Regions from separate parts of the Homo sapiens genome. Here all the other regions are reported to be linked to region 1. Evidence: microRNA targets listed by miRTarBase, many of them from high-throughput screens and not tested one by one. Region 1 holds a microRNA gene; each other region holds the end of a gene's coding sequence.
What was found. The annotated mature microRNA hsa-miR-764 reads GCAGGUGCUCACUUGUCCUCCU and lies in region 1 at 1,284-1,305, shown strand. An mRNA with a match to its seed (bases 2 to 7 or 8) in the 3' UTR can be bound and repressed. Matches are read on the target gene's strand: a 7mer-m8 pairs with bases 2 to 8, a 7mer-A1 pairs with bases 2 to 7 and ends in A, and an 8mer does both.

Region 2: miRTarBase lists C2orf72 as a target of hsa-miR-764. The part of its 3' UTR that is shown has no 7-base or 8-base seed match.
Region 3: miRTarBase lists GNE as a target of hsa-miR-764. Seed matches in the 3' UTR shown: 7mer-A1 at 1,034-1,040.
Region 4: miRTarBase lists CWF19L1 as a target of hsa-miR-764. Seed matches in the 3' UTR shown: 7mer-A1 at 2,107-2,113.

What each region holds. Positions count from the first base shown.
Region 1 is chrX:114,638,162-114,641,343 of GRCh38, forward strand. MIR764 (microRNA 764) reads left to right here and starts at 1,274; the gene lies at 1,274-1,358. All of the region lies in intron 2 of HTR2C (5-hydroxytryptamine receptor 2C), which reads left to right.
Region 2 is chr2:231,046,575-231,049,574 of GRCh38, forward strand. It overlaps C2orf72 (chromosome 2 open reading frame 72), which reads left to right. Exons shown (of 3, transcript NM_001144994.2): 3 at 308-3,000. The coding sequence ends at 447. LOC112268432 (a long non-coding RNA gene) reads right to left here. Exons shown (of 2, transcript XR_002959456.2): 2 at 2,302-3,000. Among named protein-coding and RNA genes, the nearest start is that of PSMD1, 8.8 kb to the right of the region's middle.
Region 3 is chr9:36,214,425-36,217,606 of GRCh38, reverse strand. GNE (glucosamine (UDP-N-acetyl)-2-epimerase/N-acetylmannosamine kinase) reads left to right here. Exons shown (of 12, transcript NM_005476.7): 12 at 7-3,166. The coding sequence ends at 242. Among named protein-coding and RNA genes, the nearest start is that of CLTA, 25 kb to the right of the region's middle.
Region 4 is chr10:100,230,539-100,233,720 of GRCh38, forward strand. It overlaps CWF19L1 (CWF19 like cell cycle control factor 1), which reads right to left. Exons shown (of 14, transcript NM_018294.6): 14 at 1,760-2,833. The coding sequence ends at 2,689. It overlaps CHUK-DT (CHUK divergent transcript), which reads left to right. Exons shown (of 4, transcript NR_186419.1): 2 at 477-588; 3 at 2,693-2,905. Among named protein-coding and RNA genes, the nearest start is that of CHUK-DT, 2.5 kb to the left of the region's middle. RefSeq lists a silencer at 105-367.

The DNA of each region.
Region 1 (3,182 bases):
AGTTTCCTCTCAGATGAGCTAGTGAAAACCTACTCATGCCCCAAACAATGTAGTAAACACAAATTGAGAGCGAGCAACAAAATAGCCCGAGAGTTCAATATAATGTGGAAATTCATAATTTAGAAACAAAGTCTGTCATTTTTAATACCTTCAAACAGGAATTTAACAATGTCTGTCACTGTCCATCTTTGAAATGCAGAGGTATGAGATGTTATATAACCAAGATCTTTAGGTTAGCAAGCATATAGATCAAATATGTTGTAAATGGAATCCTTGTACAATTTTAAACCTTCTTAAAGTGATAATTTGTAATATGTTTTTGACCATTATGTAATACGTTTATTTATTTATTTATTTATTATTTTTTTCTTTTATTATTATACTTTAAGTTTTAGGGTACATGTGCACATTGTGCAGGTTAGTTACATATGTATACATGTGACATGCTGGTGCACTGCACCCACTAGCTCGTCATCTAGCATTAGGTATATCTCCCAATGCTATCCCTCCCCCCTCCCCCCACCCCACCACAGTCCCCAGAGTGTGATATTCCCCTTCCTGTGTCCATGTGTTCTCATTGTTCAATTCCCACCTATGAGTGAGAACATGCAGTGTTTGGTTTTTTGTTCTTGTGATAGTTTACTGAGAATGATGATTTCCAATTTCATCCATGTCCCTACAAAGGACATGAACTCATCATTTTTTATGGCTGCATAGTATTCCATGGTGTATATGTGCCACATTTTCTTAATCCAGTCTATCATTGTTGGACATTTGGATTGGTTCCAAGTCTGTTATTGTGAATAATGCCGCAATAAACATACATGTGCATGTGTCTTGTAATACTTTTGTAGGTTTCAGTAATATTCTACAAGAAGAATGGATAACCTTAATGATCTCGAATATTTCTGGTTTTACTTTTGCTTGAGCAGTTTCATAAATGAATATTTTACTTGGCACATTATTTTTATTATTAAAAGAAAAAGGGCTTCTCCTATTACAAAAAGTAGTTCTATAAATATTTTGATCAAATTTTTAAACTATGTGACAAAACAATGTGAAATAAATATTTCAAATGCCATTTATTGATGAGTAAATTGTAAATATTGCTAAATTCCATTTACAAATTCTTGGAGGAACTTGGTTTTTAAAGGAAAACATCATGATCAATGTATGGATGTGCTCATTAGGAGACTCTTGGCCTTTTTCAGAAGGTTATACTCTGCCATAGTATAAAGAATCCTGGTGTGTTCGGGTGATATTTTCAATCTAAAATCTAGGAGGCAGGTGCTCACTTGTCCTCCTCCATGCTTGGAAAATGCAGGGAGGAGGCCATAGTGGCAACTGTTACCATGATTAATTTCGTTGGGATAGAAGATGGACCCGCTGGTTGTAATCAATGCATTGAGGACTCTCAGATCAGTGGGACTGTGAAATTTTAAACTCCTCAAGGTAGAACACAGTGGTAATGTTTTGAAATTTAAAGATTTTGAAATGCAAGCTACTTTTCTCAGGCCATTTCTTCTAAACAACACAACATAATGTTTAAGCCATGTGTTGTTCACAGATTATAATGTTGCAGTGATAAAATATATACTCCATTGGCAAAAATAAACAGCGGTAAAGGGACTGAGATTCTTGATTTTTAACTTTGTATTTAACCTTGTGTAATGCTGCCTGGAAAATTTTTGTAAAAGTATGAATAGATGTAAGAAGATTAATATATTATTACTGTATTTTACAATCTTTCTGTCCTTGAGTTTGAAGTATATTACAGGTTAAGGTTAAGCCAGGAAGTAAGATTGCTTTATAGAACTTTATAACTTTCAAAATTGACATTTGAAGAAATTGTGCTATACTATAATAGTGAAATAATAGTAATTACAAAGTAAATATAATCATCATTGAAATATAAATTTTCATACATTTTTTGTTCGACACATATTTATATAATACTTAATATATGAAAGGTATTTTCCATTCATAATCTATTTATCTTTAATGATAATCATTTTAGCAGTCTAATACTGGAAGTAGTATTTTCTTCAATTGACTGATGATAACGAATCCTCGAACCATAAAAAGTAGAATTGGATATTGTCAGTCTCTACATCTCTACTTAAATGTATTTTACATTCACTTTAAATGAAAACAATGAAACACATATATCTTTAAGAGTGATTAATGATTAGAAATAAGGGAGGCTTCTTATATGACACGGAATGCTAGTTAGAATAAAGTACACGGCTGGGCCATTGGGAAGTTGAACATTAAAGACTTTGCCAATCACATCTTATCATTTGCCACACTGCAGGTAGAGATTTATCCACATTTTGATCTTATAAGACTCAAATCTCATAGTACACAAAAGGTGTGTGTTACAGAGTGTTTTCAAGCTATGACATACCACAATGAAGCTTGACAGTAAATGTTTAATGGTTGGCTCTTTTGGTAACAAATTGGGCATATTTTTAAAATTATTGACATTCATTTTTGCAATGGCACAAACATCTTTTGAAGACTTACTAAATACAGGGCACTATGCTAAGTGTAATGAAGACAAAAGCAGATTCTGTGCATTCAAGTAGCTTACAGTCTGGGGAATAGAGATTTCTTGACCTTATTTCAAAAGTAGGACCTTTCTATCTTATGGATTTGTGATACAACATCTATTTTATTGCGCTGTTTCTCCTTGTTTCGTTCTCTTTCTTTCTTTCTTTCTTTTCCTTCCTTCCTTCCTGTCCTTCCTTCCTTCATTCTTTCCCTCCCCCTCCCTCCTTCTTTCTTTCTTTCCCTCCCTCCCTTTTTCTTTCTTTTTTCTTTCTTTCCTTCTTTCTTTCTCTCTTTCCTTCTCCTTTCTTTCTTTCTTCCTTTCTTTCTTTCTTTCTTTCTTTTTTTCTTTTCTTTTCTTTTCTTTTCTTTCTTTCATCTGTGTATTTCATCAGTGTCTACACCAGGCTGAAGTGTAGTAGCACAATCGCAGCTCACTATAACCTCGAACTCCCTGTCTCAAGCCATCCTCCTGCTTCTCCTTGTTTCTTAAACTTGAATAAAATGTTTATTCGTAGTAGATTTTCTGCTTTAGCAGATGCCACTGGATTCTGTTGACATATAAAATTCACGAATAGATGCATATATTTTCTCTTAAAACTGTTTTCTGCTTTTGCATAGTCCTTATATTT
Region 2 (3,000 bases), not on the chromosome of region 1:
CCCACCAAACACCCAGGTTTGCTCTTTCTCTCTGTTGGGCCATCTTCAGTGTCAGTTTCATCCTTAGGCTGGTAGCAAGATAGCTCCAGCAGTTCCACTAATTATTCCTAATTATTTTCTTAGGATAAAATCCTAGAAGTGAAATTTGTGGGTCAAAGGGTGTGTACATCGTTAAGGTTTTTGATATGTATTTTGTTTTGTTTTTTAAGTAGGTATTTGCTGGGGACAACTTTCTCCTTTTCCTTCCTAGATAACTCACTCACAACCTTTCTCTTCTGATTCAGTGATTTCTTCTCCTGTGTTCCAGAAGACTTCCAGGAACCTGAGGAGGAGCTGCCACTAACAGCCATATTTCCCAATGGAGACTGTGATGACCTTGGAAGGGGGTCAAAAGCCTGTGATGGAGTCGTACACACTCCTGCTGAGCCCACCGGAGACTCAAGATGAAGGCTGGACCCTTGCGCTGTCCCTGGCTCTAACCTACAGACTGGGGCCTGGCTCCGTCTTACTGGCCCCCAGGTCTCCATGGAGACTGCAGAAACCCCCGCCTGCTGGAGGCCTGCCACACTCACAGTTACCAGCTAGACAGTGGGGCTTACTAAGACAAGCAGGACCTAAAACAGTGTCTCCCCTGGGAACCTACTCCCCACCCAGCATTTGCTAAGTCTGATCACAGGGAGGTTATTTTGTCTCTCTGTCTCGGTTTCTCTGAGCCACTGAGACAGATGGCTGTCCGCTTTGAGGCTCTGCAGAGCTGTGGCACCCCATGGTGTGTCTGCAGTGTTCTGGGCACATGCATGGGCACCCATCGTTGAGAGTGCAGCTGGGAAGAACTCTGAACCAGAAGTCATCAGAGCTGAGGCATGGCCTTGAACATGTCACTCAGTCTCTGGGGCTTCTGTTTCACAAATGCATGAGGGGGCCACCAGCCCAGTGGCTTTAAACCAGGGGCAGGTTGTCCCTCCAGGCAGCATTGGAAATGTGTGTGTGTTGAGGGGGTCACAGTGACTGTGGGGGCACCCCTGGCATCTAGTGGGCATCCCACAATGTGCAGAACAGTCTCTGACAGCAAAGAATTGGTCCATTCAATGCCAATTGTAGTACCTTTGAGACATTCTGGCTGAGCCAATGCCTTCTCCCTGTCAGAGTCCCCCAGAGCAGAGAGGGTCAGGCTTCCCTGGACCTTGGCTCCCAGAGCAAGCCAAAATAAAGACTACACTGTTGCCTTGGGGGCTTGTCGGGCCAGGGCCAAGACGGTCTGCGTGCTGCAGGGCCAGGACAGAAATAGCCACACATGCCGGTGAGAACAAAGAGCCTCTTTCTTTCTCATGTTGACATCGACTTTCTGTGCCAAGTCCTTTGGGTATAAGGATGCTAGGGAATTCCTATAGGCACCAAACAGAAGGAAAGCTAGGGGCTTGGACTACTGGGTATAGGACTTGCTCTAGCTCTCAGGTCCTAGCCCAAGCTCAATGCAAACACAGCCCCTCCGGGCTCTCTGTTTCTGTGAGGTTCTGGAATCCCTTCCTCTGTGTCCGTGAGTCTGACAGAATCGATGATGTTCCCTTAGAGCTGGGAAATCCATGTGTTTATTCACGGAGGGAACTCACCATTACCTCCCTTGTCTTCTTTGCCTGCCTTGGAGAAATCCAGAGTCTTCGGAATGGCAAAGGCAGCTCCTGGATTTCCCTGGAGGGGAGGCACTAGCTGAGGGAAGTAGCTCCCTTCATTCATGATGCACAGTTTACGCAGCAGACACACAACTGCGCCTACTATTTGCTCGGTGCCCTGCAAGGTGCTGCCTAACTTTGATTTGTTATTTCAGCTCTCTCCAGGATAGTGCCAAATGGTGCAATGGGAAACCTGTTTTGCTGGGGGGCTCTAGATCACTGGCTCCAGAACTCCCGGCTGCCAGGGTAGCCCCTACCCCCAGCCCCTTGCTCCTGGACAGCAGTGGGTCTCACCTTTAGCCTCTGCCCCCAGTTCTGGTCTGACCCAACAGAGGGGCTCTATGATATTAAGAAGGGGCCCTTCCTGCTCTGTGCCTCAACCTATTCTCCATAATAGGGAGTCTAATCCTATTCCTTCCCTGCCTGATGAGGATGGTGTGAGGATGAGGAGGACGGCATCTCATTTGGGGCTTTTTGGCAGTGGGCCTCATTTTAATCCTGCAGGGCTGCCTGCCAGTGGATCTATCCAGCTGCTTCCTTGTAGCCAAGAATGAGTTCAATGAATTGTGATTCACTGATTTTATTGATTTTGTTTTAAAACAGGGAGACTGGTATTTTTGAAGCTGCTATCATTTTCTATTTCTTTATTAATTTCTTTGTAATCATCTTATTAAAGTTTTCTTATTTAGTGGGAGAGGGAGCTTTGTTTAAGTTTGGAATTTGCCTAAGGCAGAAGTTATAAGGCTTCATAACCTTTTGTATGTATTGCCAATATTTGAAACTTGGGAGATTACGTATAAAAAATACCTAGTTTTCTGGGTGGAGGATGGGGCATGCTGTCATCTCAAGTCTGCTGCGGCTCACCCCCACCACCTTTACCCCCTCCCCCGCCCTTCCCATCCCCCACTGCACTTCACTCATGTAAGACGTCTGCCCGGTGCTGGTCCAGGCGGGCATGTGAGTTTGTAGCCTCTGCTCCAAAGGATGGTTTACACATTATTTTTTCATTACCTTCAGTATTCCTGTGAATGGTTCAAGAGAGAAAGTCTTCATTTACTAAGATTTGGGTTCTGCCTCCCAAGTGACAATACGGGGCTGAGATCCCTCTCAGCTTCTTTGAGATGTGGCCACCATAAGCATCATCGTTGTAGGGACAGTCTCATTGCTGTCTTCTAGCAGACAGAAGAGTTAGGTGCCAGAAAGGACAATCTTGATGGTGGGTCCCCTCCCTGAAGGACTTTAAGAAGGCATAAAGGGGTTGGGGTGGAGGGTGGCGTGTGAAGGAGGAGGCCCTTGATTAGGTCAGTGGTCCCTGGGAGCCATCGGCGAG
Region 3 (3,182 bases), not on the chromosome of region 1:
CTATAGCTGGAACAGCTTTGGGTCTTGGGGTTGTGAACATCCTCCATACCATGAATCCCTCCCTTGTGATCCTCTCCGGAGTCCTGGCCAGTCACTATATCCACATTGTCAAAGACGTCATTCGCCAGCAGGCCTTGTCCTCCGTGCAGGACGTGGATGTGGTGGTTTCGGATTTGGTTGACCCCGCCCTGCTGGGTGCTGCCAGCATGGTTCTGGACTACACAACACGCAGGATCTACTAGACCTCCAGGAACAGACATGGACCTTCTCTCCAGAGCTCCTGAGTGGAATCAAGTTCTTGTCTTTAGGATGACCGTTTCTTAACAATCAAATCTGGTATTGAACTGCAGGTGACTTTGGCAGAGAAATGTTTTCACTTTTGGTCTCCTCTTCCAGAGTCACCTTTCCCCACTCCTATTTTTGTAGATGCTATTCTTTCTGATGTCTTCTTACTAGGGGTCATTTTAGCTCAAACCCTGTAAGTTACAGTCACAATTTTCTGTGCCAAAGCAGCTACAATAATAGAGAGGAAGCCTTCTTAGAACTCTGCTTACTAATGTATTAATACCACTGAGACCTTCAGGCCTTGCCTGGGATATCACTTCATCCTGAAGTTTGCATTAATAATCCTTCCAGGCCGGGCACAGTGGCTCACGCCTGTAATCCCAGCACTTTGGGAGGCCGAGGCGGGCGGATCACGAGGTCAGGAGATCGAGACCGCCCTGGCTAACATGGTGAAACATGGTGAAACCCCGTCTCTACTAAAAATACAAAAAATTAGCTGGGTGTGGTGGCGGGTCCCAGCTACTCGGGAGGCTGAGGCAGGAGAATGGCATGAACCAGGGAGGCGGAGCTGGCAGTGAACTGAGACCGCACCACTGCACTCCAGCCTGGGTGACAGAGCAAGACTCCATCTCAAAAATAATAATAATAAATAATAATAATAATAATAATAATAATAATAATCCTTCCAGCTGGGCGCAGTGGCTCACGCCTGTAATCCCAACATTTTGGGAGGCCGAGATGGGCGGATCACCTGAGGTCAGGAGTTCAAGACCAGCCTGGCCAACATGGTGAAACCCCATCTCTACTAAAATACAAAAATTAGCCGGGCGTGGTGGCATGTGCCTGTAGTCCCAGCTACTCGGGAGGCTGAGGCAGGAGAATTGCTTGAACCCGGGAGGCGGAGGTTGCAGTGAGCCGAGATCATGCCACTGCACTCCACCCTGGGTGACAGAGCGAGACTCCGTCTACACACACACACACACACACACACACATCCTTCCTCCTCTAACCCCAAACTAAGATCACAGAAGGTGATCCAGTCAGAGAACAGAGGGAAATCTTACCAGGAAGGGCTTAAGTACACTTTTTTTTAAAACAGCTTTATTGTTTTTAAAGCCTACAATTTGATAAGCCTTGACATATGTATACCTGTGAAAGCATCACCACAATCAAGACACTGGACATATCTATCACTCCCCCATCTCAGATATCCCCCCTAATCCTGGATACCATTTGTTGAAAGATGTTATTACTCTAGCTGAACTTACAAGAGACTTTAGACCAGGGATCTAAATTACAGTGGCCTTAGTGACCTTGTCCTTATCTTCTTAGGACAGCTGAGAAGCCACTGGGACTTAGAGCCTTTAAAAGGAGATTAACTGTCCCAAAAGGATCTTTGCTACTGACCAGCAGACACTTCTTCCTTCAGTAGCCTTTCATACTGTGTTGAGTAACACCCTAGGGTGTCCATTAAAGTTTTGAGTTTTACCTAGAGCCCAGAGCCATGAATCAGGATTCTGTCTACATGATTCGTGTTTTCATTGGTGTCAAAATACAAAAGCCAAAGTTCTGGCTATGAATTGTTAACTTGGAAGAAATACTAACTGCCACCACTTATTAAGTGCCTACTGTGTGCCAGGCTCTGAACTAGGTGCTTCATATACATTATCCTAAATTATCTCAACATATGAGGTAGGTGTTTTAATTTTTATTTTATAGAACTTGGTGTGTTTGACTGTTAAGCTATGGGGCTAGAGAGAGGGTTTGATCCCAGGTCCCTCTGTGCTTTTGCTGCTGAGCCACACAACCTCTCATTTCAAAAACACTTTCAAAATGCTAACATATTCTAATTCACTCTAGGCCACCAAAAACTTTAATACTAATATCTGATTTGTAAATGACTTAATGTATCCTTGACCCTATCAGCTGAATTTAATGAAATATTCCTCTCTGCTGTGAAATTTTACCAGTATAGTATTTGGTCTAGTGACAGGTGTTCTATTTTTTTGAGACGGGTCTCACTCTGTCACCCAGGCTGGAGTGCAGTGGCTCAATGCAACCTCTGCCCCCCAAGTTCAAGTGATTCTCCTGCCTCAGCCTCTTGAGTAGCTGGGATTACAGGCACATGCACCACGCCCGGCTGATTTTTTTTTGTATTTTTAGTAGACAGGGTTTCACCATGTTGGCCAGGCTGGTCTTGAACTCCTGACCTCAGGTGATCCGCCCGCCTCTGCCTCCCAAAGTGCTGGGATTACAGGTGTAAGCCATCACACCTGGCCCTAGTGACAGGTTTTTATGGGTACTTTTAGATGATCTAAGAAATCATGTGCATATATCTTTCAGATTTCTATTTTGGGAAAATGAAGGTTTCTACAACATATTGTTTCAGTGTTCAAATAAACTGAAGGACTCAACATTACATTTGAACTATATCCTTCCTAGTGGGTTAGTGTGAAAAAGAGTTTGGCTGATTCCTAAAACTCTGCCAGCCCTGCAGTAATCTCCAGGGCCTGGTTATTGTTCAGACATTCCATGGTGATTCCTGGGAAGGAAGCTTGGCTGCTCAGTTTCTGAGTCTGGGGTGAGATAATGTTCTGGGAAGGGACATCTGTTCTTTGGTGTAATCTCTCATGGTGAAATCTGCTCTGTACATCAGACAATTGCATTGCTACCAAGTTTCATACCAAATATTTGAAAGGATGGTATTGAATCTAAAACCAAATATTAGTTTTTATTAAACTCATGGGAAGGCTAATATATTCCAACGTAAATTATTACATATGGTTAAGTAATTGCATGTTAATTTATTTTAATGTAAATATTTTTGTTACTGTTCTGAGCCAAATTCTAAAGAAAAAATAAATACATTTCCTTGTTGAAATCCTGTTGTATTTTGT
Region 4 (3,182 bases), not on the chromosome of region 1:
GAGAAGTGTTTCTAATGGGTGCTACAGGGCTGCAGAGGCAAGCTTTGGGAATGCTGTTGGTGCAGCAAGTGCTTCCGGGTGGCGGATTGCCATAGCATAGGGGAAACAACTCCTGGTCTTCCATTTAAGAGGGTCATACCTTCACTGTACCTGGGGGATCTCAATACTCCAAGTAAAGGAATCAGCATGGAATCAAATTATTGATAAATGTGATGCTGCAACCAGAATGTTGAGCACTGCATGATACAGACGAAGTCGATGTTGTAGGTCATTAGTAACATGTGGTATGGGAGGTTCTGGTTTCTGTAAGTGCATGGTTTCCATGGACTTGGAGATGATGATGCCTCTGAGGACATGTCATTTAGAGCTGGGCAGACCGCACAGAGAATTGTGGTACAGATTGTTGTAACAGTATGAAGCCCTCTCATTTGCTGTATGTACAGCATGGCCAGTGCTAATGTGCTCAATTTCCGTAGGTGGGGCTGTAATCTCGTAATTCCCAGTCAAAAGAGGTAGGAAGGGATGCTGAGGACCCAGGGATACTGATGATTGGGCTGACCCAGAAGTGGCCATCTTTGTGGAAACCAGGTTGGTTCCCTTGGTTAACTTTTTAAATGCCCCCATTCCCAGGGCCATGAGTAATTTGAGTTGTTTTTTGTTGTTGTTGTTGTTATTGTTTGAGATGGAGTTTCACTCTTGTCACCCAGGCTGGAGTGCAATGGTGTGATCTCAGCTCACTGCAACCTCCACCTCCAGGGTTCAAGCAATTCTACTGCCTCAGCCTCCCGAGTAGCTGGCATTACAGGCGCATGCAACCACGCCCAGCTAATTTTTTGCATTTTTAGTAGAGACGGGGTTTCACCGTGTTGGCTAGGCTGGTCTCAAACTCCTGATCTCAGGTCATCTGCCTGCCTCAGCCTCCCAAAGTGCTGCAATCACAGGCATGAGCCACCTGGCCTGTTTTTTAAAAAGCCTAAGCCTGTTGACCCCAGGCTCCACAATCTTCAATTTTCCGAGTCTCAGTTTTTTTTTCATGAGTAAAATAGAGGTAATACCTACCTCACAGAGATTTTGTGAAGATTAAATGAAACAGTGTCTGGACCATAAGTGCCCAATATAAAGGTAAAAATATTTTTCTTTTTGCGCCTAATATGTAGCATTCTCTTTGCTCCTTCTCTATGTAAATGTTAGATCACTATTTTCAAGCACTCCTTAAATACTGATATTTCTCAGGTAATCATCTTCAGCTCAGGACTGTATTTACCCTATCTTAATTTCACCTATGGCCTATACCCTGATGATCCCCAAAGCCCTGTAACCAACCCAGGTACTGATGAGTTTAGAACTGCCCAGCAGCACAACAGACACATATTAGATATATCAAGCACCTAAAACAATATCCAAAGGAGAATTATCTTTTTTTTCTTAAATCTGTCCCTTCTATTCCCCATTAAACTGTAATCTCTGGGACAACAGGGACCATATTGGGACATGACTATGGTCCTGGAGCTTAGAAAAATGCCTGGCACATAGGAGTTAAATATCCGAAGGACTAAATGGGCTCTTATCTATGAATAAGATGAATGCTTAAGAGAAAAATAGCAAAAGCCTTGGATCCCTTTTCCACTTTGGGTTGTTCAGGGAGAAACTGCCCTGTGTGATTTTGGAGTAACAGCTGGGCCTAAAGCTCTAGCCCCTGCTATTACACATACTACTTCATTTCAACGGTCACAGGCAACATGAACACAAGACACTTCTCAACCATGGAAAAACATCTGGATTTCATTTGGTAGTTTAAAGGTTTTTGAAAATGTTGATATACACAAGCTGTACTTGGAGCTGGATAACAGACATAGGAGCTGGATGACAGACATACTTTTATTCTTTTATTTTTGAGATGGAGTTTCACTGTCACCCAGGCTGGAGTGCAATGGAGCGATCTTGGCTCACTGCAACCTCCACCTCCCAGGCTCAAGCAATTCTCCTGCCTCAGCCTCCTGAGTAGCTGGGATTACAAGTGCCTGGCACCACGCCCAGCTAATTTTTGTAGCTTTAGTAAAGACGGGGTTTCACCATGTTGGCCAGGCTGGTCTCAAACTCCTCACCTCAGGTGATCCACCTGCCTCGGCTTCCCAAAGTACTGGGATTACAGGCGTGAGCCACTGCGCCCGGCCTTAACATAGGATTTTCATCCTAGAATGACTTTTCCCCAAAAAGATTCAATCTTAGGCCTCTTGCTGTAGGCAAGTTCCATGGGACTGCACAAAAGAGGCAGGGAAACAGTCCCCATGGGAGATTGTAGTTTCTTTAAAAATAGGCTTCTAGGCCAGGAATGGTGTCTCATGCTTGTAATCCCAGCAGGTTAAGAAGCCAAGGCAGAGGATCCCTTGAGCCTAGGCATTACAGACCAGCCTGGGCAACACAGGGAGACCCTCCTGTCTCTATAAAAAATCAAAAAAGTTTGCCAGGCATGGTAGCATGCGCCTGTGGTCCCAGCTACTCATGAGGCTGAGGTGGGAGGAACTCTAGAGCCCAGGAGGTTGAGGCTACAGTGAGCCACAGTTATGCCACTGCAATCCTGCTTGGGTGACAGAGCGAGACTTTGTCTCAAAAAAAATTCTTTTAATTAAAAAAAAAAAAAAGCTTTACTACTTCCTGTGGAGTTCATAAAAAGTTCTTCCCTTTGTTTTAGTCATCCAGAGTAAAGTCATAGGGCTCAAAGTCTTTCCGGAAGCGGCGAGCCAGGGTCTCCTCGTCTTCCTTGCTGATCTGACACTGCCTCCAGTCAGACTTATCAGGAACATTAAGGATGGCTTCACTGGCCAGGACCTCCCTGCAGAAATAGCACAAAGAAGTCAAAATGGAAACTATCAGCCTGAGCTCTCCTCAACATCACCCAAAGGAGGTATGCAAATTTCTCTGACTTTGCTCTCCTGCCCTGAGTGCCATCTCTGCCATACTATTGATCAAAATCATACCCGTTTTAAATGACCAGCTCAGGTACTATATATTTCCTGATCCTTCAAACCCCACTTGCTTCTCCCTCTCTTAAAAAACTTGGAACTATATTATTGGTACTTAGAGAAGCAACACCACATAGAAAAAGGGCAGGCCCTGGTGTGAGAAAGATCAGAGACTGGATCCCATTTCCAGCTTTGCCACTTGCTATCTATGATCTAGAC